7 linked regions of the Homo sapiens genome follow. The protein of the gene in region 3 interacts with the protein of the main gene of each other region in a biochemical or structural test. Each region holds a gene or a part of one and is shown on either strand. Other genes may lie near its edges.

The links.
Region 1: the proteins of RNF111 (region 3) and UBE2D3 form a complex in vitro, tested with the Homo sapiens proteins (3 studies listed by BioGRID).
Region 2: the proteins of RNF111 (region 3) and SUMO2 form a complex in vitro, tested with the Homo sapiens proteins (3 studies listed by BioGRID, with this or other methods).
Region 4: of the proteins of RNF111 (region 3) and SKIL, one has a biochemical effect on the other in vitro, tested with the Homo sapiens proteins (one study listed by BioGRID).
Region 5: the proteins of RNF111 (region 3) and SUMO1 form a complex in vitro, tested with the Homo sapiens proteins (3 studies listed by BioGRID).
Region 6: the proteins of RNF111 (region 3) and UBXN7 form a complex in vitro, tested with the Homo sapiens proteins (one study listed by BioGRID).
Region 7: the proteins of RNF111 (region 3) and UBE2V2 form a complex in vitro, tested with the Homo sapiens proteins (one study listed by BioGRID).

The regions. Positions count from the first base shown.
Region 1 is NC_000004.12:102,799,827-102,804,002, forward strand, and holds part of UBE2D3 (ubiquitin-conjugating enzyme E2 D3), read right to left. Parts: intron 2,813-4,176; coding exon 2,735-2,812; intron 1,734-2,734; coding exon 1,628-1,733; intron 1-1,627. UniProt on the Homo sapiens protein: Accepts ubiquitin from the E1 complex and catalyzes its covalent attachment to other proteins. In vitro catalyzes 'Lys-11'-, as well as 'Lys-48'-linked polyubiquitination.
Region 2 is NC_000017.11:75,176,219-75,180,394, forward strand, and holds part of SUMO2 (small ubiquitin-related modifier 2 isoform a precursor), read right to left. Parts: intron 1-4,176. UniProt on the Homo sapiens protein: Ubiquitin-like protein that can be covalently attached to proteins as a monomer or as a lysine-linked polymer.
Region 3 is NC_000015.10:58,990,410-58,994,585, reverse strand, and holds part of RNF111 (E3 ubiquitin-protein ligase Arkadia), read right to left. Parts: intron 3,671-4,176; exon of another isoform or gene 3,638-3,670; intron 1-3,637. UniProt on the Homo sapiens protein: E3 ubiquitin-protein ligase. Required for mesoderm patterning during embryonic development. Acts as an enhancer of the transcriptional responses of the SMAD2/SMAD3 effectors, which are activated downstream of BMP.
Region 4 is NC_000003.12:170,364,002-170,368,177, reverse strand, and holds part of SKIL (ski-like protein), read right to left. Parts: intron 1-4,176. UniProt on the Homo sapiens protein: May have regulatory role in cell division or differentiation in response to extracellular signals.
Region 5 is NC_000002.12:202,210,913-202,215,088, reverse strand, and holds part of SUMO1 (small ubiquitin-related modifier 1 isoform a precursor), read left to right. Parts: intron 1-654; coding exon 655-732; intron 733-4,176. UniProt on the Homo sapiens protein: Ubiquitin-like protein that can be covalently attached to proteins as a monomer or a lysine-linked polymer.
Region 6 is NC_000003.12:196,425,647-196,429,822, reverse strand, and holds part of UBXN7 (UBX domain-containing protein 7), read left to right. Parts: intron 1-4,176. UniProt on the Homo sapiens protein: Ubiquitin-binding adapter that links a subset of NEDD8-associated cullin ring ligases (CRLs) to the segregase VCP/p97, to regulate turnover of their ubiquitination substrates.
Region 7 is NC_000008.11:48,049,811-48,053,986, reverse strand, and holds part of UBE2V2 (ubiquitin-conjugating enzyme E2 variant 2), read right to left. Parts: intron 4,135-4,176; coding exon 4,009-4,134; intron 1-4,008. UniProt on the Homo sapiens protein: Has no ubiquitin ligase activity on its own. The UBE2V2/UBE2N heterodimer catalyzes the synthesis of non-canonical poly-ubiquitin chains that are linked through 'Lys-63'. This type of poly-ubiquitination does not lead to protein degradation by the proteasome.

The sequences.
Region 1 (4,176 bases), on a different chromosome or scaffold from region 3:
GTGGCTGGGGGGGGGGGGACTTTAGCAAGAATATGCAGGTAACACTCATGCCATATTCATAGCCATTAGGCATGATGAAAAATCCATTCTTAGCCGTTGTCTTGGCAATTTCTGAGAAAAACCCTCAAGTGCTCCACTAAATGTCTCCTTGAACTTGTAAGCAAGAAACCATATTCCCAAGAGTACTAGTTAAATACAATGCCAAAATCTCTTTAGTACTAAGTGAGTCATCAGCTCTAGTTTTTACCTTAACCAGTTCAACATACTGATGTATAAGATGTCAAGCATTAAGGAACATAGATCGCATTCACTTTGAGTGCCTGCTATGTGCCAGTCACCATATATGGTGGTGCTGTTATAAAATGTTAAGATATAAATGCTTGAAATGGTTCTGACCGATTTTTTTTTAAAAAAAGCAATAGTATAAAAAAGACAACACTGTCACATATTTATTGACTACAGCAAATTTAATTTCAAACCCCAAATACAGCAGAATATAAAATTACCTAATATAGGAGACTTGGCTATACAATAACTCACAGAAAAAAGGTAGCTTCAGTTGTGACTGCTAGTTTAATAAGTTAGCAAAGTATGGCTGCCAAAAAAGTAAGTTGCTTTAACGACAAAACAATACCAATTCAATCTGCCCTTACAAAAACAGTTTTCAGTGTTACTGTACACTCCCAGCAGTAGTAGAAAAACTTGGAAACTGATATTTAGGTATGTAGCATGATTTGAAAAGAAATTAGAAAGCATCCAAGAAGGTGAAAAACAGGTGTAAAATTTTAAAAACACTCGAATTATGGCAGCATCTGCCTAAGTTGTTTCTTTTTCTCCCTTAAGTGATTCTACTCAATAAAGTTTGGGAAATGCTACTGCTACAGTCTCTCTCCATGAGATTCAAGTGCAGTATATACACATATGAAACTTTTATACAATGCCTTGCCTTTTGAAAAAGCTTTTTTGTACTTACTGAACTCATAAAATCAAAAAACAATTAATGGTGAAATAGTGTTAATTATTACAACTTCACCTGGGATATTCATGCGGAGACCGGAAAACTTGTTACATATAACGTAACAGATACCTATTAAGAGACCAGAATTGATCTACAGATCTTTCGAAGATTATATAATTTTAGACTGTCATTAGGTAGAAACAACCTATCATGGTTACATAAAACATGACTGAAGATTTGTCTAAAAATTAACCCAGGAAAGCAAAATCAGAATTTTCCTAGAGTGGAAACCTCAGGATTCAAAAGCTCTATTAAGTTTAGGTATATCATACCATTCTTGGTAAAAAGGCCGCAAGTTAGTGTGAGATGTCCAAGTGGTTTGGGATTGAAAAATACAGAAGTCTATTAAAATAAATTTTGCTATTATAAGATGAGATGAAGGTAACTCATTAGGCAAATAATGCCTACTCACCACAATTTGAATTTTAACAACTTCTCACAAAGTATCTTTAATCAACACCACTAAAAGAACAAAAATTATAAAAGTAACTTTATTGCTTCCCCATCTCTTACCAAAAAGCTGCCATAATAAAAATACTCAGATAAGTAGATCTAAGAATGAAGCTTTATTAGACAATGAGAACAGCTTATTTCACTAGAAATATTTACCTTTAGAAATTGTTAAAGCAGGCGACCACTGTGATCTTAGAATATCGAGACAAATGCTGCCATTACTGTTAATATTTGGATGATAAATTCTTGTTGTAAATGCAACCTAAAACAAAAACTTTTAAGTATTTTATTCAAATAAAAACAAACATCTTTTAAAGCAAAACTTAAAATAATCAAGCCACAATGTTAAAAATGTCATCTATTAGCATAGAAGTTCTAAATATTATAGAAACTGATTTTTACAATCTGACCACAACCCCCTGCCTCCTCTTTTTACAACAGAAACCTAAACTTTTGGATAAAAATTTCATTACTCATATGATGTAAAGTTCTAAAGGTTACTGTGGCCCTACCATATCATGAATCAAAGGGCAATTTAAAGGTATTTAACACATTCATTTATAAAAGCCCTAACTTTTGGATGTAACCAAAATTTGTAGACCATCTCATTTAAAGTTTCATTAAGTTACACAGGTACACCTGAGTCTGCATTTCCACCGTACATAAAACATAAACTTGAATCACAAAAATGGAAACCATCACATTGCACCTATAACATTACTAGAGATTGTTATAGTGACATGTTTATGACCTTTGTATATTACCTTTTCTAGTTATTCATACAGGTTGAATTTATGTTAATGACTGAAAAGTGAAGGATAATATGCTTTTAATACCTATAAACCAGTGCACTAAGCAACTCTAAGTTTTCACAAATTTACACTTACGTATACAAAACTATAAGCATAATAAGCATATGCTGTAACAATACGTGCAAATATAAATTGAAGTTGGACATTTGATGCTTACAAGACAACAAAAGCCCAAAAATCAGAATCTGTGTAACAATAATACAGATGAGGGCGGAAGCTTCCACATGGTCTGAATCTTGCAACATTAAAGAAAAGGCAAACCTTATTCCTATTTACAAAGCTCAAACTGAGGTCTAGCTCTTTAAACCAAAGGTTAAGAGTCAGCATCTATACATGAGTGCAATTCAACATATATATACAGCCTACACAGAACCCTATCTTCCAAGAATGCTCTATTCCTTTGAAATAAAGCATAAATCTATACTAACAGATTTTGAGGGAAAATACTTGCCTTAGGTGGTTTGAAGGGGTAGTCTGTAGGAAAATGAATTGTCAAAAAGAATACACCGCCTTGATATGGGCTGTCATTCTGTAAAAAGAAAAGTATGCTTAACTCAAATTTAAAATATTATTGCTAAATATTCCGTAACATTTGTTTCCAAGCATTTCTCTAATAATGAACCCAAATCACCTATTTACACTGCAATAAATAATCTATTCCATGAAAATTCAGTCTATAGTAATAGAAAAAAACTTAAAACTTATACAGTAATAAACCCTAATTTATCTAGTCATTTTACACGTCACCAAAATGTTTTTTTAAAAAGTTATCCAGAAACGCAAGTATTCTAGATCTCAATTCTCAAAAGTACAACACAGCAATAAAGCCTACATAATCATGTTTCAGAATAATCTGTAAACAAAATTTTACACATGTAGATTATTTCTTCCAATAGCCAGATGTGTACAAATGGCTTCACAACAGTCCATTCTGCCCACTGGCAAACCAAATGTTAGCTATTCCAGGTAACACACACACACCACCTTCAAGAGGAGAACAGAGAAAAGCCTAAGCTTCTCATTTTAATCAATACCAGAAAATACATGCATTGCCCCTATTTTATGCATGAGAAAAATGAGGCTTAAAGAACTTAGTCTAGTGTACAAATGGTAAATGATAGAACCAAGATTCAAACACAAGTCTTTTGAAGACCACTTAATGATCAAAGATACTGACCTACTCAGGAATTTAAAGTTAAAATGTGGAATGCCTAACTGCTTCTGGGTATGCAAAGAACCAATCCGAAGACATGTTTTACAACTTACATGAACTGGGTTTTTACCAACACTGACTCCCCTCTATTAGAAAGGCTTTGTATATACAGCTATATATGAGCCTTTCACTATGCCCATTCTGGATGTCAGGCACATAAAAAACAGGCCTGACACTAACACAGCTCATCTAATTCCTACCCTTCTGTAAAATAAATAAACATTAATTCAATTAATCTAACCCCTTGCTATATACTGTATGTGTGTTAAGGGATCCAAAGAACAATTTTTTTTATCTTGATGAGCTTACACTGATAGACATGTAAAGTAACTGCAATGAAATGTTATAGGTATCATGAAATATGAACAAGGGACACGAGTTCAAAGAAGAAAGGTCAATTTATTAATGAAGAATCAGGTTCAAAGAAATATACAACTAGTAAATGGAAGAGCTTTTATTTATTTGAGACGGAGTCTCACTCTGTCGCTCAGGCTTAAGCGCAGTGGCACGATCTCAGCTCACTGCGACCTCTGCCTCCTGGGTTCAAGCAACTCTCCTGCCTCAGCCTCCCAAGTAGCTGGGATTACACATATGCACCACCACACCCAGCTAATTTTTGTATTTTTAGTAGAGACTGAGTTTCACCATGTTGGCCAGGCTAGTCTTGCGGCCTCCTGACC
Region 2 (4,176 bases), on a different chromosome or scaffold from region 3:
TAGTAGAGATGGGGTTTCACCGTGTTAGCCAGGATGGTCTCAATTTCCTGACCTCGTGATCCGCCTGGCTGGCCACTAACAGGAAATTTAAAGGAAAAAAATGCCCATTTAAAGACTCCAGTCTGAGCTCGGGGGCTCACACTGTAATTCCAACACTTTAGGAGACCAAGGCAGATCATCTGAGGTCTGGAGTTCAAGATCAGCCTGGCCAATATGGTGAAACCCCGCCTCTACTGAAAATACAAAAATTAGCCGAGTGTGGTGGCATCCGCCTGTAATCCCAGCTATTCGGGAGGCTGAGGCAGGAGGATCGCTTGAACCTGGGAGGCGGAGTTTGCAGTGAGCCAAGATCGTGCCCTAGCACTCCAGCCTGGGTGACAGACCAGATTCAATATCAAAAACAACAACAACAACAACAAAACCGACCTAAAATGCCCCAACCTACACCCTTGAACTTCCTGGAATAGCTTTAAAAAAGCACCGCTTTTTAATTTCCTTTAATACTTACCCAAATCTGTAATTACTTACTGTCTTACTAAAAAACACACTTCAGGAGATATAGGAACCTAGACTGTTTTAGTTACACAGTCTATCCCTTGCACATAGTAGGTGCTGCTCAGTAAGTATCAGTGGCATAAAAGGGATGAAAAACAGTATATAACCATCATCTACTTAAAAACAAAGGCCAAGTATTGTGGCTCACGCCTGTAATCCTAGCACCTTGGGAGACTGAGGTGGAAGATCACCTGAGGTCAGGAGTTCGAGACCAGCCTGTCCAACATGGTGAAACCCCGTCTCTACTAAAAACACAAAAATTGGCTGAGCACAATGGCACACACCTGTAGTCCCAGCTACTCCAGCCGGAGGTTGAGGGGGGAAAATTGCATGAACCCGGGAGGTGGAGGTTGCAATGAGCCGAGATCGTGCCATTGCAAGAGCGAGACTCTTGTCTCAAAAAAAAAAAAAAATTAATTAATTAAATAAATAAAAATACAAAAAATTAGCCAGGCTAGGTGGCAGGCGCTGTAATCCCAGTTATTCAAGAGGCTGAGGCAGGAGAATTGCTTGAACCCAGGAGCAGAGGTTGCAGTGAGCTGAGATCATGCCACTGCACTCCAGCCTGGGCAACAGAGCAAGACTCCATCTCAAAAAAAAAGAAATTAAAAAATTTGCATGGTGGCCAGGTGCAGTGGCTCACGCCTATAATCCCAACATTTTGGAAGGCCAAGGCAGGTGGATTACCTGAGGTCAGGAGTTTCAGAGCAGCCAACCTGATCAACATGGTGAAGCCCCGTCTCTACTAAAAATACAAAATTAGCCAGGCGTGGTGGTGCATGCCTGTAATCCCAGCTACTTGTGAGGCTGAGGCAGGAGAATCACTGGAACCTGGGAGGCGGAGGTTCCAGTAAGCCTAGATTGCGCCATTGCATTCAGCCTCAGTAACAAGAGGAAAACTCCATCTTAAAAAAAAAAAAGAAAAGAAAAGCCAGGCGTAGTGCTTCATGCCTGTAATCCCAGCACTTTGGGAGGCCGAGGTGGCGAGACGGGTGGGTCACCTGAGCTCAGGAGTTCAAGACCAGCCTGGCCAACGTGGTAAAACCCCGTTTCTACGAAAAATAAATTAGCCGAGCACGGTGGTAGGTGCCTATAATCCCACCTACTCAGGAGGCTGAGGCAGGAGAATTGCTTGAACCCGGGAGGTGGAGGTTGCAGTGAGCCGAGATTATGTCACTACACTCCAGTCTGACCGACAAAGCGAGACTCCGTCTCAAAAAAAAAAAAAAAAAAAAAAAGAATCGCCCAGTGGCACAAGCCTATAGTCCCAACTACCTGGGAGCCTGAGGTGGGAGGACTGCTTGAGCCTGGGAGGCAGAGGATGCAGTGAGCCATGATCATAATCCTCCCACTGCACTTCAGCATGGGCAACAGGGCAAAAGCCTGTCTCAAAAAAAAAAAGGCAAAATTTTGCAATTGCAGAAAAGTTAAATAAGATATGCATAAGAATAGTGTTCAAGGCCAGGCACCAGTGGCTCACACCTGTAATCCCAGCACTTTGGGAGGCCGAAGCAGGCGGATCACGAGGTCAAGAGATCGAGATCATCCTGGCCAATATTGTGAAACCCCGTCTCTACAAAAAATACAAAAATTGGCTGGGCACGGTGGCACGCACCTGTAGTCCCAGCTACTTGGGAGGCTGAGGCAGGAGAATCGCTTGAACCCAGGAGGCAGAGGTTGCAGTGAGCCGAGATGGTGCCACTGCACTCCAGCCTGGGCAACAGTGCGAGACTCTCAAAAAAAAAAAAAAAAAAGAAAAGAATACTGTTCAAAACCACCAAACTGAAGCATGATTCTGTTTGTTTGTGGTTTTGAGACAGGGTCTCATTCTGTCACCCACACTGGAGTGCAGCGATGAGATCATGGCTCACTGCAGCCTAGACCTGCCAAGCTCAAGCAATCCTCCCACCTCTGTCACTGAAATAGCCTGGACTACAGGTATGTGCCACCACAACCACCTAATTTTTTTTTAAGAGATGAGGTCTGGGCCAGGCGCAGTGGCTCATGCCTGTAAACCCAGCACTTTGGGAGGCTGAGGCGGGTGGTTCACGAGGTCCTGTAATCCCAGTGACTTGGGAGGCTGAGGCAGAAGAATCGCTTAAAACTGGAAGGCGGAGGATGCAGTGAGCCGAGATTGCGCCACTGCACTCTAGCCTGGGCAATAAGAGCAAAACTCCACCTCAAAACAAAACAAAAAAACCAGATGAGGTCTTACTATGTTGTCCAGACTGGTCTTCCAGCCTTGGCCTCCCAAAGTGCTGGATTACCACGCCCAGCCTATGATTTTCTATTTTGTATGCAGTTTTGCTAAAGAAGTTCTCCAAAAGGATTACCTTTTAAAATTCCCCTGTATCCTGAAGGGGCACTAGTGTTCAAATATAGAAGATGCCAGTTTATAAATTATTTAACACAATTCATAAGTTCATGTAGGGTGATTTCAGCAAAATTCTTCAAATAAGAGTATATGGTATCTTGCTGGGCACAGTGGCTCACGCCTGTAATCCCAGCACTTTGGGAGGATGAGGCAGGTGGATCACCTGAGGTCAGGAGCTCAAGACCAGTCTGACCAATATGGTGAAACCCCATCTTGCTGACAATACAAAAATTAGCTGGGCGTGGTGGCGTGCGCCCGTAGTCCCACCTACTCGGGAGACTGAGACAGGAGAATCGCTTGGTCTCGGGAGGCAGAAGTTGCAGTGAGTCGAGATTGCACTACTGCACTCCATCCTGGACAACAGAGCGAGACTCTGTCTCAAAAAAAAAAAAAAAAAAGGTATCTTTATAAGGAACTACATACAAGAAGGTTTACATATCAATTATGAGCACAGTATTTTCTTATTACATTGTAAATACACTAGGCATAAAAATACTTCAAACATTCTAAAGTTTTTTTTTTTTTTTCCTTTGAAATGCTCTCGCTCTGTCACCCAGGCTAGAGTGCAGTGGTGTGATCTTGGCTCACTGCAGCCTCCACCTCCCAGGTTCAAGGGATTCTCAGCCTCAGCCTCCGGAGTAGGTGGGATTATGCGCGTGTAACACCACGCCCAGCTAATTTTTTTGGATTTTTAGTAGAAATGGGATTTTGCCATGGTGGCCAGGCTGATGTCAACTGCCACCTGCCTCAGTCTCCCAAAGTGCTGGGATTACAGATATGAGCCACTGCATCAGGCCTAAAGGAAGTTTTTATCTTCACTGATCTTTCAAGTATAAACTCAAACTCAATTTCCCAACTTACATAGGTTTAAGCCTTATTCTATTTTGAGCCTATTTAGAACAATCTGAAGGGGCCAGGCACAGTGGCCCATGCTTGTAATCCCAGCACTCTGAGAGGCCAAGGTGGGCGGATCACTTGAGGTCAGGAGTTGAGGTCAGGTCTACTAAAAATACAAAATTAGCCGGGCGTGGTGGCGCACGCCTGAAATCCCAGGTACTCAGGAGGCTGAGGCATAAGAATAGCCTCAACTCAGGAGGCAGAGGTTGCAGTGAGCCAAGATTGCACCACTGCACTCCAGCCTGGGCAACAGAGCAAGACTCCATCAAAAACAAAAACAAAAATAAAACACAATTTACAAGGTAGATAAGTTCTAGCTTAAAAGAAATAGAGTGAGACTCCCAGCTTAA
Region 3 (4,176 bases):
GAATCGCTTGAACCTGGGAGATGGAGGTTACAGTGAGCCGAGATCACACTGCTGCACTCCAGCCTGGGCAACACAGCGAGACTCCACCTCAAAAAAAAAAAAAAAAAAAAAAGAGAGAGAAAATAAGAAAGCAAGAGTGACAACATTAAAAATTGGTGAATCTGAATAATGAGTATTCAAGAGTTCTCAGTACTATTTTTTAAATCTTTCGGTAAGTTTGAAATTATGTCAAAATAAAAATGTAAGTAGCCAGGCGTGGTGGCTCACGCCTGTAATCCCAGCACTTTGGGAGGCCAAGGCGGGAGGATTACTTGAGGTCAGGAGTTCGAGACCAGCCTGGCCAACATAGCGAAACCCCATCTCTACCAAAAATATAAAAAATAACCTGAGCGTGGTAGCGTGCACCTCTAATCCCAGCTACCTGGGAGGGTGAGTCAGGAAAATCACTTGAAGCTGGAAGGTGGAGGTGACAATGAGCCAAGATGGGGCCACTGCACTCCAGCCTGGGCCACAGAGTGAGACTCCATTAAAAAAAAAAAAAAAAAAAAAAAATTTAAGTAACAACAAATTGGGATGTCAAAAGATAGTAAAATAAGTAATTTATTCGAGTGCCCTATAGTACATATGAATAAGGGAAATGACTACAACATTGATTCAGACTTGACACCTAGCCATATATAGAATTTCTTAAATTTTCTATTTGGTAGAAAAGGAAAAATATTTTTTAAGAATCCAATCACATACAAACTAAACTAAGATGCTAATCGTGTATGCCCTCAGGAAAACACAAAAATCTTCTCCATGTTAACACAATCCACACTGCCAAACTCTCCTTTCCACCAGCAAGCCATAAGCCCCTTCAGGCAGGTGTTAAGAGCCTGCCCTTTGTTTTAACTCAAGCACTGGCACAGTGCCTGAAATACAACACTCCTGTTTGTTGAATAAATACTGAACATTTACAAATAGAAACGAAATACTGTATTTTTATCAAAATGAAAAGAAGCGTGGAAGGGAACAGACACTTAAATATGGTACTTTCACAAATTTTGAGATGGAGTCTCACTCTGTTACTCAGGTTGGAGTGCAGTGGTGCAATCTCAGCTCACTGCAACCTCCACCTCCTGGGTTCAAGCAATTCTCCTGTCTCAGCCTCCCAAGCAGCTGGGATTACAGGCACCCACCACCACGCCCAGCTAATTTTTGTATTTACAGTTATATTTTTTTTATTTTTGTGTTTTTAGTAGAGACAAGGTTTCACCATGTTGGCCAGGCTGGTCTCGAACTCCTGATGTCAGGTGATCCACTCGCCTTGGCCTCCCAAAGTTCTGGGATTACAGGTGTGAGCCACTATACCTGGCCACTTTTACTAATTATTTTAAAACATTTTTATTTACAATTGAACATTTTCTTTTTTTTGAGATGGAATCTTGCTCTGTCACCCAGACTGAAGGGCAGTGGCGCAATCTTGGCTCACTGCAACCTCTGCCTCCTGGGTTCAAGTCATTCTCCTGCCTCAACCTCCCAAGTAGCTGGGATTACAAGCACCCGCCACCATGCCCGGCTACTTTTTGTATTTTTTAGTAGAGACAGGGTTTTGCCACGTTGGGCAGGCTGGTCTCAAACTCCTGACCTCAGGTGATCCGCCTGCCTCAGCCTCCCAAAGTGCTAGGATTACTACAGGTGTGCACCACCATGTCCAGCCTAAACATGAATGAACGTTTTCAAAAATATATTATTTTATTTTATTTCATTTACTTATTTATTTTGAGATAGGGTCTGGCTTTGTCACCGAGGCTGGAATGCAGTGGCACAATCTCGGCTCATTGCAACCTCTGCCTCCCGGGCTCAAGCCATCCTCTCACCTCAGCCTCCCGAGTAGCTGGGACTACAGGCATGTGCCATTATGCCTGTCTAATTTTTGTATTTTTTTGGTACAGCCAGAATTTCGTCACATTGCCCAGCCTAGTCTCAAACTCCTGGGCTCAAGCAATCCACCTTCCTCAGCCTCCCAAGGTGCTATGATTACAGGCATGAGCCACTGGGCCCAGCCAAAAAAATATATTTTAAAATATGAACAATTTTCAAACCTCACAAAAGCAGAGAACAATATTATTAATACCCATGTACCCATCACCCCAACCCAACAATTATCCAGATTGTGCCAGACCTGCTTCATCTATCTTATCTCCCTCCACCACATTTTTTGGTTTTTATCTGGTATCTGTTTAAAATAACAGACATTGCTGGGCACGGTGGCCCACGTCTGTAATCCCAGCACTTTGGGAGGCCGAGACGGGCGAATCACCTGAGATCACGAGTTCAAGACCAGCCTGGCTAACATGGTGAAAAACCGTTTCTACTAAAAATACAAAAAGTTAGCAGGCGTGGTGGCGCGCTCCTGTAATCCCAGCTACTCAGGAGACTGACGCAGAAGAATTGCTTGAACCCGGGAGGTGGAGGCTTCAGTGAGCTGAGATCACACCACTGCACTCCAGCTTGGGCAACGAGGGAAACTCCATCTCAAAATAAAATAAAATAAAATAAAATACCAGACATTTGCAAGTTTTCTCCCTCATTCCTCAGTCTCTATCACTAATAAAAAGTGGTCATTTTCTTACATAAACATAATGCCATTATCATCCCTAACAAAGTTACAATAACTCCTTGATATCATCTAATACCCATCCATATTCAGATTTCCCCCAATGTTTCAAAAATGACTTTCTACAATTGGTTTGAGTCAGGGTTTAAACAACACCAACATATTGTATTTGGTTACTACACATAAAATAATTTTAATCTGTCTACATCATCTGACAGCAAATATGAAAAGCTTAACAGACAAACCAAATAATTAATTTACATTTGTAGATTCTCTAGAATCAAACCTCACCTAATGCATTTGCCGCCCCTGCTATCTGTAGCAGTCTTCCTCCAAATCGTCACTATGGCTGATTTTTTCTAGTCATTGAAGTCACAGGTCAAATTACCACCTCTAAAAAGGCCCTCCCTAACCACTCAATCTACAGTAAAACCACTTCCATCCATGCCGTATCACATGGTCCTATTTTCCTCATGGCACTTACCACTACCTGAAACCATTCTGTTTATTATGTTCCCACACACAGAACAGAATGTCAGCTCCATGAAGGCAGAGTGCCTTCACTGAAGACCAGTGACTGTGCCTAGAACATGAGACATTCAATAAATGTATCTACGTAATAATGCAGTACCGCTCTTTAAAATGTAAGCTCAGCTAAGTATTTGGAGGCTTTTTTGTTGTTTTGTTTTTTTTCAAGATGGAGTCTTGCTCTGTCACCCAGGCTGGAGTGCAGATCTCAGCTCAGTGGAACCTCCACCTCCCGGGTTCAAGCAATTCTGCCTTACCCTCTTGAGCAGCCAGGATTACAGGCGCATGCCACCACCATGCCCAGCTAATTTTTGTATTTTTTTTTTAGTACAGACGGGGTTTCACCATGTTGGCCTGGCTGCTCTCGAACCCGACCTCATGATCTACCCGCCTCGGCTTCCCAAAGTGCTGGGATTACAGGTATGAGCAAGCGCACCCAGCCTCAGCTAAGTATTTGTCTTTAAATATTTGTAATTCACTCCTCATGTAATGATATAAATTGAGTACCTGTAGAAACCTGGGCCAGCTGTTACCAAGAATCTGTAGGATGTAGGAAAGAAACAAACAGAGGTATAAGACATTCAAATGTAATTGTGGACTTTTACTGAACAATAATTACAGGTTTCTGAAAGAAAAACAAATTATTCCAGATGATTTTTAAAATGTTACCAGGAGTAATAAAAAATTTCATTTTTAGTACCATCTGAAAGCTATTAAAGCTTCAGTAATTAATATCTACAATGGGACAACAATAGCAATAATATGTGGAACAACAATCATAGTTTTTTTGTTTGTTTGTTTTGAGAAACAGTCTCGCTCTGTCGCCCAAGCTGGAGTGCAGTGAGTGGCACGATCTCCGCTTACTGCAACCTCCGCCTCCGAGGTTCAAGCCATTCTCCTGCCTCAGCTTCCCAGGCAGCTGGGACTACAGGCGCACACCACTAAGCTCGGCTAATTTTTTGTATTTTCAGTAGAGATGGGGTTTCACCATTTTGGCCAGACTGGTCACCTCAAGTGATTCGCCCGCCTTGGCCTCCCAAAGTGCT
Region 4 (4,176 bases), on a different chromosome or scaffold from region 3:
GCAAATCACCATCAAATCCACCACAATTATTACTAGATCACATTCTGTCCCAACACAACTCTTTGTAGTTGCCCATTCTACTGTTCCTTATCTCAATTAGGTTTATACTGACAAATACGCTGCCTAATACAAGTATAATTAAAAGCTTGCAAGAGGGGAGAAATATTTTGTACTATTATTACTCCAATGATCTCTACAGAAATGAAGAAGTGAAACGAAAATGCAAAATTAAACTCTCAAACGGCTAATACGCTTTCAGGGAAAAAAAATTTTTTAAGTTGCTATCTTTAGGTCATCTGTTTGTATCATAAGTAATCTATAGAGATTTTTCCCCCCTAAGTAGATTAAAAACTAAAATATTTTACTTACCTAAGAGTAGTCCAGTCTAAATGTTAAAAGTTTAAATTTTAGCCAGGCACGGTGGCTCACGCCTGTAATCCCAGCACTTTGGGAGACTGAGGCTGGTGGATTGCCTGAGATCAGGAGTTCGAGACCAGCCTGGCCAACATAGTGAAACCCCCATCTCTACTAAAAATACAAAAAATTAGCTGGGTGTGGTGGCAGGCACCTGTAATCCCAGCTACTAGGGACACTGAGGCAGGAGAATTGCTTGAACCTGGGAGGCGGAAGTTGCAGTGAGCCAAGATTGCGCCATTGCACTCCAGCCTGGGCAACAAGGGCGAAACTCCATCTCAATTTAAAAAAAAAAAAAAAGGGTATATATAGTTCTTAACTTAGTAAAGTGGAGACTGTCAGCCACATGCTACAATAGGGAAGAATCGGCCAGGCGCAGTGGCTCACGCCTGTAATCCTAGCACTTTGGGAGGATGACGACGTCAGGAGATCGAGACCATCCTGGCTAACACGGTGAAACCCCGTCTCTACTAAAAAAATAGAAAAAATTAGCCAGGCGTGGTGATGGGTACCTGTAGTCCCAGCTACTCAGGGGGCTGAGGCAGGAGAATGGCGTGAACCTGGGAGGTGGAGTTTGCAGTGAGCTGACATCGCGCCACTGCACTCCAGCCTGGTCAACAGAGCGAGACTCTCGTCTCAAAAAAAACAAACAAACAAACAAAAAAAGTGAAGAATCACCTACAACAAATGACCACTTCCAATATGTTTGAAAATAATCTTAAGTAAACATTACTCTTCAAATTTTATTTACAAATGATTAATTTGCCTGTTGATCTTTTTTTCATACAAACGTAATATTCAACAAAATTAGAATTAGATCAAATTTATTTTAATTTTCTATTTTTGTTTACATATATTTGATCTACTTCTGATTTTGCTGAATATCCACTGAAGATGTGAAAAAGAATCAGGAATGTGATGTTTGCATGTATTTATACAGTTTAAAGTAAAATAATGATTATTCCAATAAAAAACACAAAAAGCTCGTATCAGGTAAGTAACTTGACAACATTCTGTAGAACAACATAGGCAGATCTAAAATCAAGTATGTGTGTGTGTGTGTGTGTCTGTGTGTGTGTGTGTGTGTGTGTTTTGAGACAGAGTTTCACTCTGTCACCCAGGATGAAGGGCAGTGTGAACTCGGCTCACTGAAACCTCCACCTCCTGGGTTCAAGCCTGCCTCAGCCTCCCAAGTAGCTGGGATTACAGGCGTGTGTCACCATCCCCTGCTAACTTTTGTATTTTCAGTAGAGATGGCGTTTCACCATATTGGCCAGGCTGGTCCCGAACCCCTGACCTCAGGTGATCCACCCAACTCAGCCTCCCAAAGTGCTGGGATTACAGGCATGAGCCACCGCGCCTGGCCTAAAATCAAGTATATTTCTTATGGCGACTTGAGTAAGAAAGAGTTATTAGCTATATTTAATTAAGTTGTCTCATTTCAAATTATTTATAATTTACAAGATACTACAACTTATTAACATTAAAATGTATTAATATATTACATATTTTATAATTGTAAAATAATTAAGTTGTTTCATTTCGAACAACTTACTGAGTTTCAGGACTTTTTTTAATCCAAAAGCAATACTTTGATTACATAAACTATATACGCATGTCAAATCATGTCAGTATTCACACCAAACATCAGGTCCTTTACATAACACGTTAATATATTTAGTACAGTCTTAAAAAAAAAAAAAAAAAAGGCCAGGCGCAATGGCTCATGCCTGTAATCCCAGCACTTTGGGAGGCCGAGGCAGGTGGATCATCTGAGGTCAGGAGTTCAAGATCAGCCTGGCCAGCATGGTGAAACCCCGTCTGGACTAAAAATAAAAAAATTAGCTGGGTATGGTGGCAGACGCCTGTAATTGCAGCTACTTGGGAGGCTGAGGCAGGAGAATCGCTTGAATCCAGGAGGCGGAGGTTGCAGTGAGCCAAGATCGCGCCATTGCACTCCAGCCTGGGCGCAAGAGCGAAACTCCATCTCAAAAAAAAAAAAAAAAAAAAAGCCTAGTTTGACTTTTTAAAATGAGCTCCCTCTGGGTCAATTTGGCTTGTTTGGCAACCAACTCAATGACTCACAGAAGAAAATAAAAACTGTTCCTCAGTCAAGGACTATCTCATTCTCAGTTAAATACCTTAGTATTTAAATTTATATGCAGGTTAAAACAGAGTTTGAGAACCATCATAGAGGCTGAATATCCCTTATCAGAAATGCTTGGGACCAAAAGTATTTTGAATTTCTGATTTTTTCAGATTCTGGAATATGTGCACGATATGGCAGTTGAGCATCCCAAATCCAAAAATCAAAATCTGAAATACTCCAATGAGCATTTCCTGTGAGTGCCATGTCAGCATTCAAAAAGTTTTGGCCTTTAGAGCATTTCAGATTTTGGATTTGGGATGCTCAACCTGTACTAAGGTAAATTGATAAGAAAAGTTAATGTTTCTCAAAATTCAGTTTCTGCTACTAACATGTGCTTCAGGGGCAAATAGTGAAAAATTACTAAACTTCGAGTTAGAAGCCCTGTATTCAACTCCTGATTCTGGTTATACAACCAGGAGCATGTGACTCATCTAAGAGGTGGAAATATTGTCATTCACCTTCCTCACAGACCCTAAAAAATAAGTGTACTTCACAATGTTCTGAGTACGTTTTTAAAACGTGAAGTGGTAAGCATAATAAAACAACCACTCAAGTACGTATTAAATATGAACCAAAGAAAAGAATCTTTCTTAAAGTATGGGTGTTTGAAATTTTCTTAAATTCCTTTAAATTTCTCAAATTCACATAAAATTACAAGCAATATCAAAATACACCACAAACACTAATTCAAATACTGCAAAATATAACACAGCAAAAAGATCAGAAAGAAACTCACACCTTCCTAAAATCGAAAATGTATTCAAATCAGTGAATTCTGGGACAAAAAGGGATTACATCCCAGACGAAGGATGGTTTCAGTGTTAACCAAACCTCAGCACATTGTTTCAGTTAAGTAAATTAATCCATCATCTTTTTTTTTTTAAACCTTTATCATGGTTCTCAGATGTTTTTCACATAAACACAGAGCAAGAATATTAGGAAAAGTAGTTTATCCAAAATACACTTATGTCAGACTAATAATTAGACTGGGGCGGGCCAGGCGCCATGGCTCATGCCTGTAATCCCAGCAATTGAGAGGACGAGGAGGTCGGATCACCTCAGGTCAGGAGTTAAGACCAGCCGGCTAGGCTGTAAAATCCCATCTCTACTAAAAATACAAAAAACAAGCTAGGCATGGTGGTGGGCACCTGTAACCCCGGCTACTTGGGAGGCTGAGACAGGAGAATCACTTGAATCTGGGAGGTGGAGATTGCAGTGAACTGAGATCGCGCCATTGTACTCCAGCCTGGGCAATAAGAGCGAAACTCTGTCTCAAAAAAAAAAAAAAAAAAAAAAAAAAAAAGACGGGAGCAACAATATCTGGCAAATGTGGCCTCCAACAGACATGTAAGAGTAGACCACCACTGGGCATGGTGGCTCACGCCTGTAATCCTAGCATTTTGGGAGGCAGAGACAGGCGCATTGCCTGAGCTCAGGAGTTCGAGGCCAGCCTGGGCAACATGGTGAAACCCCCTCTCTACTAAAATACAAAAGAAATTAGCTGGGCATGGCGGTGGGCGCCTGAAGTCCCAGCTACTCGGAAGACTGAGGCAGGAGAATTGCTTGAACCCAGGAGGCAGAGGTTGCAGTGAGCCGAGATCGTGCCACTGCAC
Region 5 (4,176 bases), on a different chromosome or scaffold from region 3:
GCCTGGCTAATTTTTGTATTTTTAGTAGAGACGGGGTTTCACTATACTGGCCAGGCTGGTCTTGAACTCCTGACCTTGTGATCCGCCTGCCTTGGTCTCCCAAATTGCTGGGATTACAGGCATGAGCCACTGCGCTCAGCCCCATGTGGTGATTTTTTATGGCAGGAATAAATTTCTCAGTCGCTTATTGTATAAAATTGAATTTTATACAATTAATTATTATCTAATTAACTGCTTTTCTCCTAGGCGACCACCTTCAGTGACACTTCACTTGGGGGGACAGACTTTTTGTTTTGAGTTGCTATTGGGATAAATAAAAGATGCGATAGTTCATCTTTTATTTTGACAATAGAATGGCAAATGAAGGAATGCATTTACTTAGACTTTTACTTATACTGATAATTTTAACACTCAAGACTGATTAACTTTGTTTTACTCGGTTTCTTTTGTAATGGGTATACAGTAACTTTGAGGATGATTACACTGTTTTAAGAAAACCTGTTAAGAATGCTAAAAAGAATATTGTGGTGGAAAAATACAGGTTACAAGGTTTATGTTTCTATTTGCACTATATGTGTAATTAAATAGTTTGGTTCAAGTAAAGCAAATGATTTATACAAAGAGGGATAATTTTTTTCTTTTTTATCTCCTTAGGATAGCAGTGAGATTCACTTCAAAGTGAAAATGACAACACATCTCAAGAAACTCAAAGAATCATACTGTCAAAGACAGGTTCGTCCATTTTGGTATTAAGTACAATGCTTTGTCGTTAATTTTTTTTTTTTTATAGAAGATTGTCAGAAGAAAAATCCTGTTTTATTATTTTCACCATTAGCAACTCAAGGAAAACACTCTATCATTTCTTGTACCCTGCTTAACTGCTTTTTTTGTCTTGTGGCCCATTTTAAAGTTTGAATTCGTAAGATGGGAACTAGTTTGAAAAGTAACTCAGAATTGTAAAAGCGAGCTCAAATGAATGTTTCTGTCTTGATGGCTTACCAGTATATATAGCAAAAAAGGCAAGTAATTTTTTGGTGATTACTATGGATTGTTTTTGTACTTCTAATCATGAGTGTTTAGCCATATGTTAAATTTAAGTAGTAGTATTATTAGTATATTATCTCTCTTTTTTTTTTTTTTTGAGATGGAGTTTGCTCTTGCTGCCCAGGCTGGAGTGCAGTGGCACGATCTCTGCTCACTGCAACCTCCGCCTCCCAAGTTCAAGTGATTCTCCTGCCTCAGCCTCCCGAGTAGCTGGGATTACAGGCATGCACTACCACGCCCAGCTAATTTTGTATTTTTAGTAGAGATGGGGTTTCTCCATGTTGGTCAGGCTGGTCTCGAACTCCCGACCTCAGGTGATCTGCCCACCTCGGCCTCCCAAAGTGCTGGGATTACAGGCGTGAGCCACCAGGCCTGGCCTTATAAAATAGGTTTTGAAAATAAATGTAATTGGAATTAATATGAGACAACCAAGATATAGTTTAAGTGAAATTATGATTTAATAAGCAAGAAATATATGTTTAATCAGTCTTAAATTAAATTATAGGCTGGGTGCAGTGGCTCATGCCTGTAATCCCAGCACTTTGGGAGGCTGAGGCGGGCGGATCACCTGAGGGCAGGAGTTCAAGACCAGCCTGGCCAACATGGCAAAACCTTGTCTCTACTAAAAGTACAAAAATTAGCCAGGCATGGTGGCGCATGCCTGTAATTCCCAGCTAGTCGGGAGGCTGAGGCAGGAGAATCACTTGAATCTGGGAGGCAGAGGTTGCAGTGAGCTGAGATCATGCCACTGCACTTCAGCCTGGGTGACAGAGCAAGACTCCATCTCAAAAAAAAAAAAGAAAAAAGAAAAAAAAGAAAAAAAATTGAATTATATTACATAATATTAACTCAGGTATTGTAAATTTTATTTTCATTTATTTATTTATTTCTTTGAGATGGAGTCTTCACTCTGTCGCCCAGGCTGGAATGCAGTGGTGTGATCTCAGGTCACTGCAACCTGTGACTCCCTGGTTCAAGCGATTCTCCTGCCTCAGTCTCCCGAGTAGCTGGGATTACAGGCATGCACCACCACGCCCGGCTAATTTTTGTATTTTTAGTAGTGGCGGGGTTTCACTATGTTGGTCAGGCTGGTCTCGAACTCCTGACCTTGTGATCCGCCCGCCTTGGCCTCCCAAAGTGCTGGGATTACAGGCATAAGCCACCGTGCCCGGCCTGTAGATTTCATTTTTAGAAGGTTTGCTTTTAACAGTTTAAATTTGTAACTCACATTAAAAAAAACTTATTATAAGAAAGAGAAACTAGGTGTTAGGATAAGTAAAACAATAAGCATTTTTGTCTCTTCTGTTTTTGTAGATTTTAATTGTTTAACTTAATAAAATCACATTAATTGGGGTTCAACTACTTCACATTTGTAATAACTTTGGGTGTTAAAATTGAGATGAAATTCATCAGGGGAAAGAAACATTTATTGAAATCTCAATTATGTGTACTGTGCCATAGGTATTTAAGATACATTATTGGCCAGGCACAGTGGCTCACGCCTCTAATCCCAGCACTTTGGGAGGCTGAGGCAGGCGGATCATGAGGTCAGGAGTTCGAGACCAGCCTGACCAACATGGTGAAACCCCTGTCTCTACTAAAAATACAAAAATTAGCTAGGCATGGTGGTGCACGCCTGTAATCCCAGCTACTCGGGAGGCAGAGGCAGAAGAATCGTTTGAACCCAGGAGGCGGAGGTTGCAATGAGCCGAGATCACGCCATTGCACTCCAGCCTGGGTGGCAGAGTGGGACACTGTCTCAAAAAAAAAAAAAAAAAAAGATTCATCGTCATTTAATTTTCATAACTCTGAAGAAAATTCATATAGTCTCTACGCCCCCCATCTGTAGGCCAGGGAATTGATTTTTTTTTTTTTTTTTTTTTTGAGACAGAGTCTCACTCTGTCGCCTAGGCTGGAGTGCAGTGGTGCCGTCTTAGCTCACTGCAACCTCCACCTCCTGGACTCAAGTGATTCCCAATGCCTCAGTCTCCCGAGTAGCTGGGATTACAGGCACCTGCCACCAGGCCTGGCTAATTTTTGTATTTTTTTTTGTATTTGTATTTGTATTTTTTTTTTTAGACAGGGTGTTCCTCTGTTGCCCAGGTTGGAGTGCAGTGACACGACCTTGGCTCACTGCAACCTCCACCTCCCGGGTTCAAGTGATTCTCCTGTCTCAGCCTCCCGAGTAGCTGGGATTACAGGCGCGTGCCACCTCGCCAGGCTAATTTTTGTATTTTTGGTAGAGATGGGGTTTCACCATGTTGGCCAGGCTGGTCTTGAACTCCTGACCTCTAGTGACCCACCCGCCTCGGCCTCCCAAAGTGCTGGGGTTACAGGCTGAATCACTGCGCCTGCCCCGTAATTTTTGTATTTTTAGTAGAGATGGAGTTTCATTATGTTGGCCAGGCTGGTCTCAAACTCCTGACCTCAAGTGAGCCGTCTCTCCCCTTTCAGCTGTTTTTGTTGAAGAGTGATTAGAAAAATGTATACTAATATATTTTGTAATATTTATGGTGCTATCTGTGCCATCCAGGTTTATGGTAGATGAGCTAGCTAGCCATTTGCGCTTTACCAGATTTTATGATAATGTTGGCCAGGCTGGTCTCAAACTCCTGACCTCAAGTGAGCCGTCTCCCCTTTCAGCTATTTTTGTTGAAGAGTGATTAGAAAAATGTATACTAATATATTTTGTAATATTGCGCTATCTATGCCATCCAGGTTTATGGTAGATTAGCTAGCTAGCCATTTGTGCTTTACCAAATTTTATGATGTAATCTGTTTAAAACCAATTTCGCCAGTATAGTTGGAAGCTAGTGAGGGTGCACGTCCAGTTTCTGATCTGATCTTTTATTCTAGCTTACAGATTTAGGGCAAAGTGAATCGAGTAGTGGTCAAGAGCATAGGCTTAGAAACAGGTTTGGGCTTAAATTCTTGGCTAGCTCCAAGCCTTAGGTTCCCTAGCTGTAACATGAAGATAAGGTGGTAATACCTACCTTCCAGGGTTGTTGTGTTTAACACTTATGATTATGTATGTAAAGAATTGGTACAGGGAGGGCCTTGCAAATAGTTGCTACTCAGTACAGTATATAGTATTTATGATTGAATTAGCTTGTCTAATTTTATTTTCTATGT
Region 6 (4,176 bases), on a different chromosome or scaffold from region 3:
AGCGAAAATACCTTTGAGTGTTCTTCAAATATTGTGAATTTCTATTGATAATTTTTGGGATTCTTTTTACAAGATAGTGATTAACCGTTAGAAACACATGATTGATTTCTTTTTGCCTTTTTTACATGTCTTAAAATTTTTTTGGGGTTCTCTCCACATACGTTTTAATCGTAGTGTTTATAATTAAAAGGTATTTTATATTTATTTTAGTGACCTTAATAGCTTATGCTCTGATTTCACAAAGGTTTTACTTGGAAGCTCAATATTCTTGTAAAAACAAATGCATCATCAAAAATGTGAGTCCTTACTTTTTAGGCAGGAGCAAAAAAAAGAAAAAGAAAAAATAAAAATAAATGTGAGTCTTATCTTTTTTTGGCATTTAGAAATAGAACGGAAAATTGAAAGATTTTAGAAAAGTCTTATTTCTTACTGAATAGAACAGATCTCTCTCTGATTCAGTGAGTATGAAATAATGACTGATGTTTTTTTTTTTTTTGAGACGGAGTCTCGCTCTGTCACCCAGGCTGGAGTGCAGTGGCGTGATGTTGGCTCACTGCAAGCTCTGCCTCCCAGGTTCACACCATTCTCGTGCCTCAGCCTCCCAAGTAGCTGGGACCACAGGCGCCTGCCACCACGCCTGGCTAATTTTTTGTATTTTTAGTAGAGACGGGGTTTCACCGTGTTATCTGGGATGGTCTCGATCTCCTGACCTCGTGATCCGCCTGCCTCGGCCTCCCAAAGTGCTGGGATTACACGTGTGAGCCACCGCGCCTGGCCTAATGACGGATTTTTGATTTTTTTTTTTTTTTTTTAAGAGATGGAGGTCTCCTCTCTTTGTTGCCCAAGCTGTTCTCCAGTTTCTGGGCTCAGCCATCCTCTTGCCTCAGCCCTCCCAGTAACTGGGGCTACAGGTGCACATCACTGTGCCTGGTTCAGTAATGGCTGATTAAAAAAGATTATTAAAAAGACAATATCATAAAAACTTTTTTTTTTTTTTTTGAGACGGACTGGGTCTCACACTGCCACCCAGACTAGAGTGCAGTGGTGTGATCACGGCTCACTGCAGCCTCTAGGGTAACTTTCTTTATTTTTTGTGGAGATGGGGTCTCACTTTGTTGTGCAGGCTGGTCTTGAACTCCTGGGCTCAAGCAATCCACCCACCTTGGCCTCCCAAAGTGCTGGGATTACAGGCGTGGGACACTGCACCTGGCCGAAATAATTTTGATAAAAGGGAAAAGAACTAATTCTCCTTCTCACAACAGCAATATTTATTTTACATATTATCTTCCACTTCTTGTTTATATGCTTATTTTTACATTGTGGATCATAGTATATACAATTTCTGAGATTTCTTTTTCTTTTTTTTTTTTTAAAGACGGTCTTGTTCTGTCACCCAGGCTGGAGTACAGTGGCACAATTATAGCTTGCTGCATCCTTACCGCCTGGGCTCAAGTGATTCTCCTGCCTCAGCCTCCAGAGCAGTTAAGACTACAGGCATGTGCCACCATGCCCAGCTAAAATACACGGTTCTGAAATTTTCACTTAACATTATGCTACAAACCTTTTTTGCATGGTCAGACTGATAAGCAGGTAGCCAAGAGAAGTGATGACCTTTGAAGTAACCACACTGAGAAGCTGTATACAGTATGGTTTACCATTGATGCTTGCTTTTTGTTTGTTTTTGTTTTTGTTTTTGTTTTCGACAGAATTTCACTCCGTCACCCAGGCTGGAGTGCAGTGGCATGATTTCGGCTCACTGCTGTCTCCGCCTCCTGGGTTCAAGCAGTTCTCCTGCTTCAGCCTCCGCAGTAGCTGGGATTACAGGCTCAAGCCACCATGCCCGTCTGATTTTTGTATTTTTAGTAGAGATGGAGTTTCACCATGTTGGGCAAGCTGGTCTCAAACTGACCTCAAGTGATCTGCCCTCCTCAGCCTCCCAAAGTGCTGGTATTATGGGCGTGAGCCACTGCAACCGGCCCCACTGATGCTTTCTGTGTCATTTAAAGCTACATAAGAAAACCAGTCTTGTTACTTTTATAGTCATTCCACATTTTACAATACTACTGTTTGATCTCCTCTGATATTTATCATACATGGCTTTGAATTACTGTTGAAAACTCAGAAGTCATATCAATTCTCAAAACATGAAGGAAAAATATGCAGCTGGATCTATTCTGAAAGAGCAATTTTTAAAAATGTTTTGAAGCCAGGTGCGGTGGCTCACGCCTGTAATCCCAGGCACTTTGGGAGGCCAAGGCGGGTGGATCACCGGAGGTCAGGAGCTTCAGACCAGTCTGGCCAACCTGGTGAAACCCTGTCTCTCCGAAAAATACAAAAATTAGCTGAGCATGGTGGTGCACGCCTGTAGTCCCAGCTACCCAGGAGGCTGAGGCAGGAGAATCTCGTGAACCCAGGAGACGGAGGTTGCAGTGAGCCGAGATCCAGCCACTGCACTCCAGCCTGGGCGACAGAGCGAGACTCTGTCTCCAATTTTAGTATATGTGCTGCTGAAGCGAGCACAGAGCGAGACCCTGTCTCAAAAAAAGAAAAAGTAAATAAAAGTAAAAATGTTTTGAGCCATGGCAGTATTCCATTAGCACCAACTTTGGGCTGACATCCACTACACATATACACTGGTGCACATGTGTAATCAGAATAATTCATGGAGTGAAGGTGAGGGATACATAGACACTATAGAACAGGTGAAAAATAAGCTAGCAGTCTAAGGACAAATGTGAGGGCATAGAAAGTGGAGGCTAAGAAGAGTACAAGAGGTTACTGGTACGGAAATTCATAGAGCTTTGTGCATAGCGGCAATAACATACTTGAGAAAATTATAGAACCTCAGTTGTAGAAGAGACCTTAATCTTTCAGATGGTTGATGAGTGCATATTTATTATAAAAATTAGGGGCTGTCATGTTTGTGGTATTTAACTTTATGGCCAATTTCCATTCATGTTCTTTTTTTTTTTTTTGAGACAGAGTCTCACTCTGTGGCCCAGGCTGGAGTGCAAAGGTACGATCTTGGCTCACTGCAGCCTCCACCTCCCGGGTTCAAGCGATTCTCCTGTCTCAGCCTCCTGAGTAGCTGGGATTACAGGCATGCGCCACCACGCCCGGCTCATTTTGTATTTTTAGTAGAGACGGGGTTTCTCCATTTTGGTCAGGCTGGTCTCGAACTCCCGACCTCAGGTGATCCTCCTGCTTCGACCTCCCAAAGTGCTGGGATTACCGGTGTGAACCACCGCGCCTGGCCTCATTCATATGCTTTTGTACAGAACATTTCCTTTCTCTTGGGTTAATATTAAACTATGATTAAGTTCTCTGTGTCTGGAAAGGTGGTCACAGTATTATAGATGTTAAGAGAAAACTTCAGGAATTTTAAGAATAGTTTCAATAGGGAATACATTTCAGAATTTCTTTTTTTTTTTTTTTTTGAGACGAAGTCTTATCCTGTCACCCAGGCTGGAGTGCAGTGCTGTGATCTTGGCTCATTGCAACCTCCGCCTCCCCGGTTCAAGTGATTCTCCTGCCTCAGCCTCCTGAGCAGCTGGGACCACAGATGCGCGTCACGACACCCAGCTAAATTTTTTGTATTTTTAATGGAGATGGGGTTTCATCTTGTTGGCGAGGCTGGTCTCAAACTCTTGACCTCAGGTGATCCACCCACCTCAGCCTCCCAAAGCGCTGGGATTACAGGCTTGAGCCACCATGCCTGGCTGAAGTTTCAGAAATTTAAGGGAGGTAATTTTGAGTTGCGAATGGAATCTTACTAGTAGATTCATTTATTGGTAGACTGCTACGTGCCAGGCATGGTTCACATCTTAAGGATACAACTGTGAGCAAGGCGTGGTGTCTGTCCTCAGAAAGCTTAAAGGTTAACAGGAATAGAGACACACGAATAGGTATTAGAATACAGTGAGAGAATGGTAAGGAGCTAATACTGGAGCACAAAAGAGGGAGGTCAAGAAAACCTTCCCAGAATAAATACTTTTTTATCTAAAATCTGGAAGATGTTTCTTGCAGGAGAAACATGCAGAGACTTGGAGGGGAATTGGGCAGACATGTATACAGACAGAGATGAGAGAGGGGAGACAATCGGTTTAGGGAATTGATAATTCCAAATGAGTAAAGCACAGCTAGTGCAATAAATGGACCTCAAGAGATAAATGGGAG
Region 7 (4,176 bases), on a different chromosome or scaffold from region 3:
CTAAAAATACAAAAATTAGCCAGGCATGGTGGCAGGCACCTGTAATCCCAGCTACTCGGGAGGCTAAGGCAGGAGAATCGCTTGAACCCAGGAGGAAGAGGTTGCAGTGAGCTGAGATCATGCCATTGCACTCCAGCCTGGACAACAAGAGCAAAACCTCATCTCAAAAAAAAAAAAAACAGGAAGGGGAAACAAGAGAAAGCCACACACAGAATTAACTCTATTTATAATGTAGTCTTTGTACTAATAAGAAAAAAATCTAGCTGGGCAGGGTGGCTCACGCCTGTAATCTCAGCACTTTGGGAGGCCGAGGCGGGCGGATCATTTGAGGTCAGGAGTTTGAGACCAGCCTAACCAACATGGTGAAACCCTGTCTCTATTAAAAATACAAAAAAATTAGCTGGACGTGGTGGCACATGCCTGTGGTCCCAGCTACTTGGGAGGCTGAGGCAAGAGAATTGCTTGAACCTGGGAGACAGAGGTTGCAGTGAGCCAAGATCGCGTGACTGCACTCCAGCCTGGGAGACAGAGTGAGACTCCATCTCAAAAAAAAAAAAAAAAAAATTAAAAGATCTGTTACAAATAAGACAAATGTTAACATTTGACAAAGCTAGGTGAAGGACACATAGATGCTGGTTCTATCATTCTCTAAAACTTCTATTATGTTAGAAACATTTCTTTTAAAAACAAAAAAATAAATTTATAGTTAAGTGCAACAAAAGAATAAGAGTGACTCTAACAGAGCAATAGAAGGGACATAATTCAAGTTGGAACATCAATAAAGATACTAAAAAGTGGAATTTAGGCTGGGTGCGGTGGCTCATGCCTGTAATCCCAGCACTTTGGGAGGCCAACGCGGGTCAGGAGTCTGAGACCAGCCTGGCCAACATGGCAAACCCCCATCTGTATTAAATTAGCCAGGTGTTGTGGCACACACTTGTAGTCCCAGCTACTTGGGAGGCTAAGGCAGCAGAATCACTTAAACCCAGGAGATGGAGGTTGCAGTGAGCGAGATCATGCCACTGCACTCCAGCCTGAGTGACAGAGTGAGACTCTGTCTCAATAAAAAAGAAAGTGGAATTTACAGTGAGAAATGAAGGACCCATAGGAGTTAGCCAGACTGGGGAGGAAGGAGGAAGAACAGAAGTGCAAAGGTCTTGAGACCAAACGAAAGGCATGCAGGCCAGTGTGCACCTTGAGCACTCCCAGTGAGCCATGGCAAGAAGCATGCATGCTGAGGCTGATGCCCCTAAAGGAATCTGAAGTGCAGAAATGACACGACGCAATTTGTCTCTTAGGAGGATCCCTCTGGCTGCTAACTTTGGAAAGACTGGAAGGGATTTTAAAAAGTAGAATCAGAGACGTTGTTGCAAGAGTCCAGGAAATAAATGATGGCCAATATTCACTTGGTGGCAATGTAAATAGAAAAATAAGACCTAAATCCAGTCACATTTGGAACATAAAACTGACAAGGCTTAATGATAAATGGGTTGGGGGAAGGGAGGTAGAGAGGGAGGCAAAATATCAACTACTGGACCAAAAGCCCAAGAGATCAGATAAGCTTATTAGAGGTAGGTCTGAAATTTAATCTAAATTTCCTAGCTTCCATGACAATGTAGAACACACCATTAGTTACTTAATTTACAGAAGCTATAATGTAAAAACAAAACAGTAGTGGAGAAAACCAGATATGTCTAGTAGCAAAATCTAACAAAGGTCTTCTTCATAAAGGCAATGCTGTGTGTCACACAGGACATTCCCTAAATAATATCTTTTCTGTGTACTCATATGCTTTATAATCCTGCTCCTATCAAATTTCTTAAAAATAGATAAGTGTGCATAATTTCTAGAATAATCACTGAAAGAACACAAACAGAATGAAAGAAGTTGAGAACAACCATTCCAAAAGTAGGCAAGAAACATGTAGAAAAATAGAAACCACCAAATAAGATGATCTGTTTAAACCTGAACATGTCAGTAATTAAGAATATTAAATGTAAATGGACTAAATGCTCCCAGTAAATCACAAAGACTGACCAACTGAGGACTGTGAGGGCTGGAGAGACTCTCAGGTCCCAGCTCTGAGTTGGCACAGGGGTGGGGGGGTGTTAATGGCCCAGCAGGTGCAGGGCTAAGGTTTCCAATGACCTTTCCCAGCTTCTTCCTTTCTCAGGGTCATGCTTTATTTGGCCTGGTGCCTCCCTGCTGGATGCACCAGCCAATCTGGGGCCCCGCCTCAGACCTGCGTATTAGGTTGGGGTTGAGGGGCAGGGAGCTGGCTGTGAATCCAAGATTCAACTTGTTGCCAGAAGTACAGTTATATGAAGGGGAAATTGAGCAAATAAGTAAATGCACTGGGAAGCATGGGAGCCAGGTTTCTCAACTGGAAAGGAAGAATCATAGAACAAACCCTATAGTTTTAGAATAAAATTAGTGGGAGTTGTTAGTATAAACTCGTGATTTTTAACAGATGGTAAACAGATGAGAAGGAAAGAGAGAAGGAGAGAAGAAAGGAGGATGAATTTGTGTACATATGTGATACATTTGTAGTACAAAATACACTGGTAGAGAGAGGGAACGCAGGGATGGGATGAGAAATCAAGGATACTGAGGCCCTATTTCCTAAGATGGATGATACTCATTTTATGATGATGATATGTTATTTTGCTTCCTAAAATGTATTTTGTATGTGGCGTGCTCTCAACATGGCACCAAGAGAGCCTAGGCTTCAAAGACTTATCATGAACTTAACAATCTACTCATACTGGAAATTCAGCTGTTTCTACTAACTAACTTGTGTGGGTCAAGCAGGGCATGTCATTTTGTTTAAAGAGACAATGGGCTGGACACAGTGGCTCACGCCTGTAATCCCAGCACTTTGGGAGGCCAAGGTGGGCAGATCACTTGAGGTCAGGAGTTGAGTCCAGCCTGGCCAACATGACGAAACCCCATCTCTACCAAAAAATACAAAAATTAGATGGGCTTGGTGGCATGTGCCTTGTAGTCTCACATACTTGGGAGGCTGAAGTGGGAGAATCACTTGAGGCCACAGGAAGTGGGGGAGTACCACTGCACTACAGCCTGGGGGACAGAGTGAAACCCAAAAATAAATAGACAATGATGCTCAGCCATGACTGTTTCAACACAGACATATTTGCTCTTTAAAGAAAAAAACCCTTCATGAATATTCATCCTTTTCATGAACAGTCATCCTTTTAATCCCACCAAATGTACCTTAACCCTCAGAAAAGTAACATTCAAAGAGAAATAATGATCATCTCTTTTTTTTTTTTTTTTTGAGACGGAGTTTCGCTCTTTCACCCAGGCTGGAGTGCAGTGGCACAATCTCTACAAGCGTGAGCCACCATGCCCCGCCCAATAATGGTCATCTTTTTACCAAATAAAGATCAACTGAAATATGACTATTAAGGCAATTAAAACCCTAAGAAAACTTTTGGCCAGGCACAGTGGCTCATACCTGTAATCCCAGCACTTTGGGAGGCCGAGCCGGGCGGATCAACTAAGGTCAGGAGTTCGAGACCAGCCTGGCCATTGTGAAACCCCGTCTCTACAAAAATACAAAAATTAACTGGGCATGATGGCAGGTGCCTGTAATCCCAGCTACTCGGGAGGTTGAGGCAGGAGAATCACTTGAAGCCGGGAGGCAGAGGTTGCAGTGAGCCAAGATCGCACAATTGTACTCCAGCCTGGGTGACAGAGTGAGACTCTGTTTCAAAAAAAAAAGAAAAGAAAAAAAAAGTTTTAACCACCACATGCATCTATTCTAGGCAAGTACATTAAGGTTTTTAAGGATGGCCTAATTTATATTAATAAAAGAAAAACAACATAATGCAACCTTCTTTAGACTTTTGGCTTAACAAAGGTCCTCTTTTAAAAACTTTCTCCTAACTACATATTAATATCTTACATATATTATGGTGTGTGTACGTATAATATATAACTCTATACATTATGTTATATAAAACCAAAATGACTATATTAACTTACCATCCCACTGGAATTATTTATTCCGTTCATATTAATTTTTGTTACAAATCTAACTGACGGAGGAGCTTCTGGGTATTTAGGTCCACATTCTACTTTCAGGCTATATATTCTGTTTTCATAATTTGTCTGGAAGGCAAAAAACAAAAAGATAATCAAAATAACAATACC